Regions from separate parts of the Homo sapiens genome. Here region 1 is reported to be linked to region 2. Evidence: microRNA targets listed by miRTarBase, many of them from high-throughput screens and not tested one by one. Region 2 holds a microRNA gene; the other region holds the end of a gene's coding sequence.

Region 1 (3,389 bases), not on the chromosome of region 2:
AAAGACCTCAGCTCTAAAAATAAAGTAAATTATCAATTTAATTTAACTGAAGAATGTAATGGCTCCGCCAGGGATGAACCTCCTTGGTCTGGTCAGCCATCATCTTGGGTGGTGGATGAAGCACTTAGTGTAAACATGGCAACCTTACCCTCATCCTTCTGTGGGGTCTGAAGGGTACATCCAAGGAAGGGGACAAGGCGGGGCTGGTTTCCTAAACCTGTCTTTCTGAACATAGGCCCAGTGCTGAGATCCCACACACACCTAGCCACCCAAATCTTGTGACTGTCATCCTCTAGCTAGATCTATTGCAATGTTCTTCTCAAATCTATGATACCTTTACTGTCTCACTTGAGTTGTTATTTTACTCCCTTGTTCAGATGAGAAACAGGTTCAGAAAGGTGAATTCATGTGTGATACAGATAGAGAATGGAGGGGCTCAGGCTGACTGTGGGAGGCCAAGGGGCAAGCCTGCCAAGTGACATCTTCTACAATGACCTCTCTCCTTTTCTTTTTAGAACCGTCTCGCCCAAATCTGCAGCAGCATACGGACCCACAAATGAGACACCAAAGTTGACAGGATGGACTTTTAATGGGCACTTCTGGGACCCTGAAGAGACTTCTTCCCTTCAGGCTTATTGTTTGAGTGTGAAGTTCCAGAGCAAGGAGCCATGTTCCTCTAAGGGAATTCAGGAATTCAGACGTGCTAGTCCCACACCAGTTAGGTAGAGCTGTCTGTTCACCCTCCCATCCCAGCTGATCCCAGTCACTGCTTGCTGGGGCCATGCCATGGAAGCTTCCCATCAGTCTCCCAGCTGAATCCTCCCTGCTCTCTGAGCTGCTGCCTTTTGCCTCCTGCAACTCAACATCCTCTTCACCCTGCCCTGCCTGCAGTTGAGGGGGCGAAGAAGAACCCTGTGTTCTCAGGAAGACTGCCTCCACCACCGCTACCCAGAGAACCTCTGCATCTGGCATTTCTGCTCTCTATGCTTGAGACCGGGAGGTTTAGGCTCAGATAAGTGAGCTCTGGGCCATGAGAGGGTAGGTCCAGAAGGTGGGGGGAACTGTACAGATCAGCAGAGCAGGACAGTTGGCAGCAGTGACCTCAGTAGGGAACATGTCCGTCTACCCTCTCGCACTCATGACACCTCCCCCTACCAGCCCTCCTCTTCCTCCTCCTCCTCCTCCTGTGGGAGGTGGTCAGTGGGACTTAGGGATCTTTCACCTGCTGTGCCCAGTAGTTCTGAAGTCTGCTTGTGGAGCAGTGTTTTATGTTTATCCCTGTTTACTGAAGACCAAATACTGGTTTGGAGACAACTTCCATGTCTTGCTCTTCTACCTCCCTAGTTAGTGGAAATTTGGATAAGGGAACTGTAGGGCCCAGATTCTGGAGGTTTTATGTCATTGGCCACAGAATAACTGTCTCTAAGCTATCCATGGTCCAGTGGTCCCTGCCAAGTCTGTAGACTTCAGAGAGCACTTCTCTCTTATGGGGTTCATGGGAACAGGGGTGGGTGTGACTTGCTTGGTGGCCTCATTCCATGTGTGCCTGTGCCTGGGGCATGGACTTTGTTAAGCAGAGTCAGCAGTGAGGTCCTCATTCTCCAGCCAGCCTCTCTGCCCTGGAGAATCATGTGCTATGTTCTAAGAATTTGAGAACTAGAGTCCTCATCCCCAGGCTTGAAGGCACATGGCTTTCTCATGTAGGGCTCTCTGTGGTATTTGTTATTATTTTGCAACAAGACCATTTTAGTAAAACAGTCCTGTTCAAGTTGTATTCTTTTAAGTTCTTTTATTCTCCTTTCCCTGAGATTTTTGTATATATTGTTCTGAGTAATGGTATCTTTGAGCTGATTGTTCTAATCAGAGCTGGTACCTACTTTCAATAAATTCTGGTTTTGTGTTTTCTTTTGTAATCACTGTTCATCCTGCCTGTCCTCTCCAAGCTGTGCTCTGTGGACTAGGGAGACAGCAATTGTGTGGGAGTCTTTGCACATCTGCTTTTCTCAGATGTGAAAACCTTTGCTTTGGGCAGATTCATTCTGATATCTGAAAGAGGGGCTTACTACAAGATCCAGAGCATCGGTACCTTCAACCCCCAGCAGAGCGCCCCCAACACCTTCATTCCATGAGCTAGAAATTTGTGTCTGGGAGGACAACACCTAGGGTCTCTGTAATTTCCCAGTATAGTAGACTTTTCTTGGCCAGGAACAAAGCGGGGCAAGAGTAATTCGGTGATCATGAGTCTCACTTCCCAAAGTTTCTGAGGCCCTGGCAGATCTGCCTTCCCGGAACTCTCTAGGCTGAAAATGATCAACCTAGAGCTAATGATGCAAGAGGGTTCTGCCTAAAAGAAGACAACCTGGGGGCATACTTAGCCAGGTTATTGGGTATTGACAATTTATAGACTAGGAATCTTCTGGTAGTGACAGCATTTGGAAGAATGGTTACTCAGTGCAAATAAGCAACCCAGACTATATGTCATCAGGCCTAAAGAGCCTGACACCAAGGAAACACTTAGGATCCAACCTGCTTTACCCAGAACCAGGTTCATCCTGTTTCATTCCATCTGCACCACTGCCTAAATCACCTAGTAGGAAATGCATGTTATGTAGCAGGTGCCTAATTAACACCTGGGACTGAGACATGGCAGTTCTTCATTTCATATAAGGGGCTGGCTTGGAAAGTAAAGAGTTCCCCATCCCAGGATTGATTGATTGATTGATTTTTTGAGACAGAGTTTCGCTCTTATTGCCCAGGCTAGAGTGCAGTGGTGAGATCTCGGCTCACTGCAACCTCCACCTCAGGTTCAAGCAATTCTCCTGCCTCAACCTCCCAAGTAGCTGGGATTACAGGTGCACACCACCACGCCTGGCTAAGTTTTGTACTTTTAGTGGAGACAGGGTTTCGCCATGTTGGCCAGGCTGGTCTCCTGACCTCAGGTGATCCACCCACCTCCACCTCCCAAAGTGCTGGGATTACAGGTATGAGCCACTGTGCCCGGCCCCATTCCAGGATTTTTAAAAAAAATTTTGTTTTTTATCATTTGGTATTTTTGTTGATTTATTTTGTAGAACTTATGTCCCCACCATCCCAGGATTTTTAAGTACAGGCTGAACTATGTCACAGGGCTGGGACAAAGACAACCTAAATCTTACTGCCAGCCCCCAGACATACTTTCATACTCGTTGGGTTGGGTTTGGGTTTTTTTTTTTCCCCAAATTAGTTGCTAACCATTTAAATATCGGGCGATTACACAAAGATTGCTAGCCTCTGAAAATAAGATCAGACAGCACGGGCCAACAGTCAGCTGGAGCTCAGTAGCAGCTTTCCTTGGCCCGCAGAGAATCCTCTACCGGTTCAAAGCAATCCTGATGAGATTACTTCTTCCC
Region 2 (3,391 bases):
CTACCGCACCTAGCCTCCACCTGGCAGTTTAAACAGAAACTGAGGAGCCTGGGACAGGGTCAGGACCTCCCTTTGGCTTCCACGTAGCAGCAGTGGCCTTCTCCCGACCTCAAACAGCCCCACCCCAGCCACCTGCTTGCTGTGCCCCTTGGGCCAGAGCCCCTGGGTAAGGAGAGGAGAGCAAGTTAGATGGATGTCTCTGAGGTGTGGGGTGTCTGCTCCCCTCAAAGATGCCTGCTTACCAGGCAGGAGCCTTTGCACCCCAGGCAGTGTGCAGCCTGGAGAATGGAGGGAAGCCATCCCCTGGTGAATGCCTAGGGGCCAGTCTCCAGGCCTGGCTGCGCTTGCACCTCTGCTTCTCACCAGTTTGGTGACCTTTGGCTGTTTCCTTAAGCTCTGTGAGAGCTCTGTGATGGTGTCATCACTGGAAGAGGGACAGCCCCCAGCCACTGCTTTTCCTGTCCCAACTCCCGAACACCTTCCCGTGCAGAGAAGCCTTCTGTATGGAGGCTTCCATACAGAAGCCTCCATGTGGGACAGGCTGAGCATATGTCTGACATGTCCCAAAATCTAGGATGGCAAGACAGTGTGGGCAGACCAGGTGTGTAACTACTGAGACTATAGATTAGACCTTGCCAAACATTGGAAAATCTAGACCGGAGAGAAAACGGGTGGGGGGGCAGCATGCTGTGAAGGCAGACACTGGGGGGATGCCAGTTCCCACTTCCCAGCTCCGAGACCTGGACAGGTCCCTGAACCAAGCCCATCGCACCCACCTGTGAAGGGGCTGCTCCTGCAGGGCCAGTTGAGCGTGAAGACCGAATCAGACCAAGTACACACACAGCTCCAAGACAGCGGCTGATCCGCCCTGGCCTCCCGGAATAGGGAATGGGACCCATTCCCAGCACAGGCCGTTACTTAGTGAGAGTAAAGAGATGCGAATGAAGAGCTAAGTGAATGAGTGAGCCAAAGATGGCCTTCTCTGTCCTCCAGGAGCCCCACCCTGGTGAAGAACATGATCTCTGGCCTCAGCTATGGAGCACTTAATGCCAGCTACCAGGTGACCTGCCCAGAGCCCACCCACTCACCTCTACCTCCCGCCCCCTTGCTTTCTCATACAAGAGACCCCCATCCTCCCCTGCAGAGGACTCACCAGAGGAGGGAAGGAGGGTGAAGACCCAAACTCTCCGAGACCCCACCTCTCTGCCCCACCCCAACTCGGGGCCAGCCTCCACCTCTGCTTTCAAGGCTGGGTTCAGACAAGGCAGGCAGCTGGGAGGATGGCATACCTATAGCATCCCCTTTCCTGGTTTGTCAGTCTGGGGGTTCTCTGTTCCCTGGGAGAGGGGATAAGCCAGGCCCAGGTTCCAGGAAAGCTAGGAGGTAGGAGGTCGGGGGGTCAGAGTTCCAGCCATGGGGGAGGGGTGCTACATTCAAAGGCTGAGTTGGGGCTTGGGGGTTGCCCAGACAGATCCGCCCGTGGGGCCAGTAGGCAGACACACAGGCAGCTCTCTAGTGGGCGGGGAAGGCACAGCACTTGACTGAGTGTGCCCCATCCTGTGGAGCCACTGACGAGGCCCAACCCTGTGCCCCTGCAGGCCGCCCTGGCCGAGAGCAGCTTCCCCCTCCTCAACAGCCCTGGCATGCTGAACCCTGGCTCCGCCAGCAGCCTGCTGCCCCTCAGCCACGATGACGTGGGTGCCCCCGTGGAGCCGCTGCCCAGCAACGGCAGCAGCAGCCCTCCTCGCCTCTCCCCGCCCCAGTACAGGTGAGCACACAGCACGGACCCCCACCCACCCCAGCACCCCTCAACCACCAGGGAGGAGGCGTCATCCCCCACCCTGGGTGGGGTTCCCCATCCCACCCCCACCACGCCTCTCCCCAGGACAAGTGGCTTCTCTCTTCCTTCCCTCAGCCCTCTCAGCCCTCCCTTGTCCCACCTGCCTGTTCTTATCCCCTCTCCCCACCTCCCCACCTTCCCACCTTCTCCTCCCCATTTTCCCCCTTTCTTATTTTTCCTCCTCCTCTCTTCTCTTTTTTTTTTTTTTTTTTAAGACGGAGTCTCGCTCTGTCACCCAGGCTGGAGTGTAATGGCAAGATCTTGGCTCACTGCAACCTCTGCCTCCTGGGTTCAAGTGATTCTCCTGCCTCAGCCTCCCAAGTAGCTGGAATTATAGGTGCCTGCCACCATGCCCAGCTAATTATTTTGTATTTAGTAGAGAATGGGGTTTCACCGTGCTGGCCAGGCTGGTCTCGACCTCCTGATTTCAGGTGATCCACTGGCCTCGCCCTCCCAAAATGCTGGGATTACATGTGTGAGCCACCTCGCCTGGCCTCTCTTCTATCTTTCTTCTCCTTCCTCCGTTCGCTCATCTCCCCTCTGCTCCCCTCTTCTCTCCTCCCCAACCCAGAGCAGTCTCTGCCCCAGGACCAGCTTTTCTTTGAAGAGAGCCCTAGGGGAGATCAGCCCTCAGGTCTGATGGGATCCTGGGGAGGGGGCTGTGGGCACCCCACTGTGCCCCAGAGTTCTGGGTGAGTTTGGGGGGCAGGGGGCAGAGGGCATCAGAGGACAGCCGCCTGGTGCCCATGCCATACTTTTGCCTCAGCCACCAGGTGCAGGTGAAGGAGGAGCCAGCAGAGGCAGAGGAAGACAGGCAGCCCGGGCCTCCCCTGGGCGCCCCTAACCCCAGCGCCTCGGGGCCTCCGGAAGACAGGGACCTGGAGGAGGAGCTGCCGGGAGAAGAACTGTCCTAAGGGCCTGTAGTGACCGGCAGGGCTGGGGTGAGACCCCTCCCTTCCAGAATCCAGGCCCCATCTCCCCCAACTCCACAGCCCCTCCCGAGCCTCAAGGCAAGTCCAGGACTCAGACCGGGGAGGCCCGGGCCAGCAGCTCCCAGTGTGACCTGACAAAAACACGTAGGGGCAGGGACGGTCCCCACCCCCAGGGACACAACCCCTGGTCTTGGACCAGTAGAGGACACGGAGGGTTCAGACCCCTCCTCAGACCCTCCCCACATCTGAAACTGCCTCCCCCCAACCACCAGCAGCAGCAGGGCCCTCCTCCCCCACCAGCTCTCCCCACAGGGCCCCTCAGCATCATGGAGACCCGCAGGCGGGGCTTAGCCACCCCTCAAACCCAGGGCCCCCTGGCACCTGGCTCTGGCCGTGTTTTCTGGCCAGAGGCCCCCACTTTCCTAACTCGTGCTCCCTTCCGCCTTCTTTTCCGTACTGTGAAGAAAGAACTCTCCACCCCAGCTCCCACCCTGCCCTGGCCTGGGTGGAGGAACTGTGCCTCCATCCCCAGAAGAAACAGCCCCCTCTGCTGCTGGGGTGGGACTGTCTGTGTGCCCTGTGGGGGTCCGTGTGAGCAGGCCCACCTGGCTCCAGACCC

The links. Region 2 holds the annotated microRNA hsa-miR-4641 (UGCCCAUGCCAUACUUUUGCCUCA, at 2,582-2,605, shown strand). A microRNA usually pairs through its seed, bases 2 to 8, with sites in the 3' UTR of a target mRNA and lowers its output. Matches are read on the target gene's strand: a 7mer-m8 pairs with bases 2 to 8, a 7mer-A1 pairs with bases 2 to 7 and ends in A, and an 8mer does both.
Region 1: miRTarBase lists CDCA8 as a target of hsa-miR-4641. Seed matches in the 3' UTR shown: 7mer-A1 at 590-596.

The regions. Positions count from the first base shown.
Region 1 is chr1:37,707,807-37,711,195 of GRCh38, forward strand. It overlaps CDCA8 (cell division cycle associated 8), which reads left to right. Exons shown (of 10, transcript NM_001256875.2): 10 at 516-1,913. The coding sequence ends at 560. Among named protein-coding and RNA genes, the nearest start is that of CDCA8, 17 kb to the left of the region's middle.
Region 2 is chr6:41,596,183-41,599,573 of GRCh38, forward strand. It overlaps MIR4641 (microRNA 4641), which reads left to right and starts at 2,541; the gene lies at 2,541-2,606. FOXP4 (forkhead box P4) reads left to right here. Exons shown (of 17, transcript NM_001012426.2): 15 at 994-1,060; 16 at 1,599-1,768; 17 at 2,607-3,391. The coding sequence ends at 2,754. RefSeq lists enhancers at 2,058-2,642, 2,643-3,226.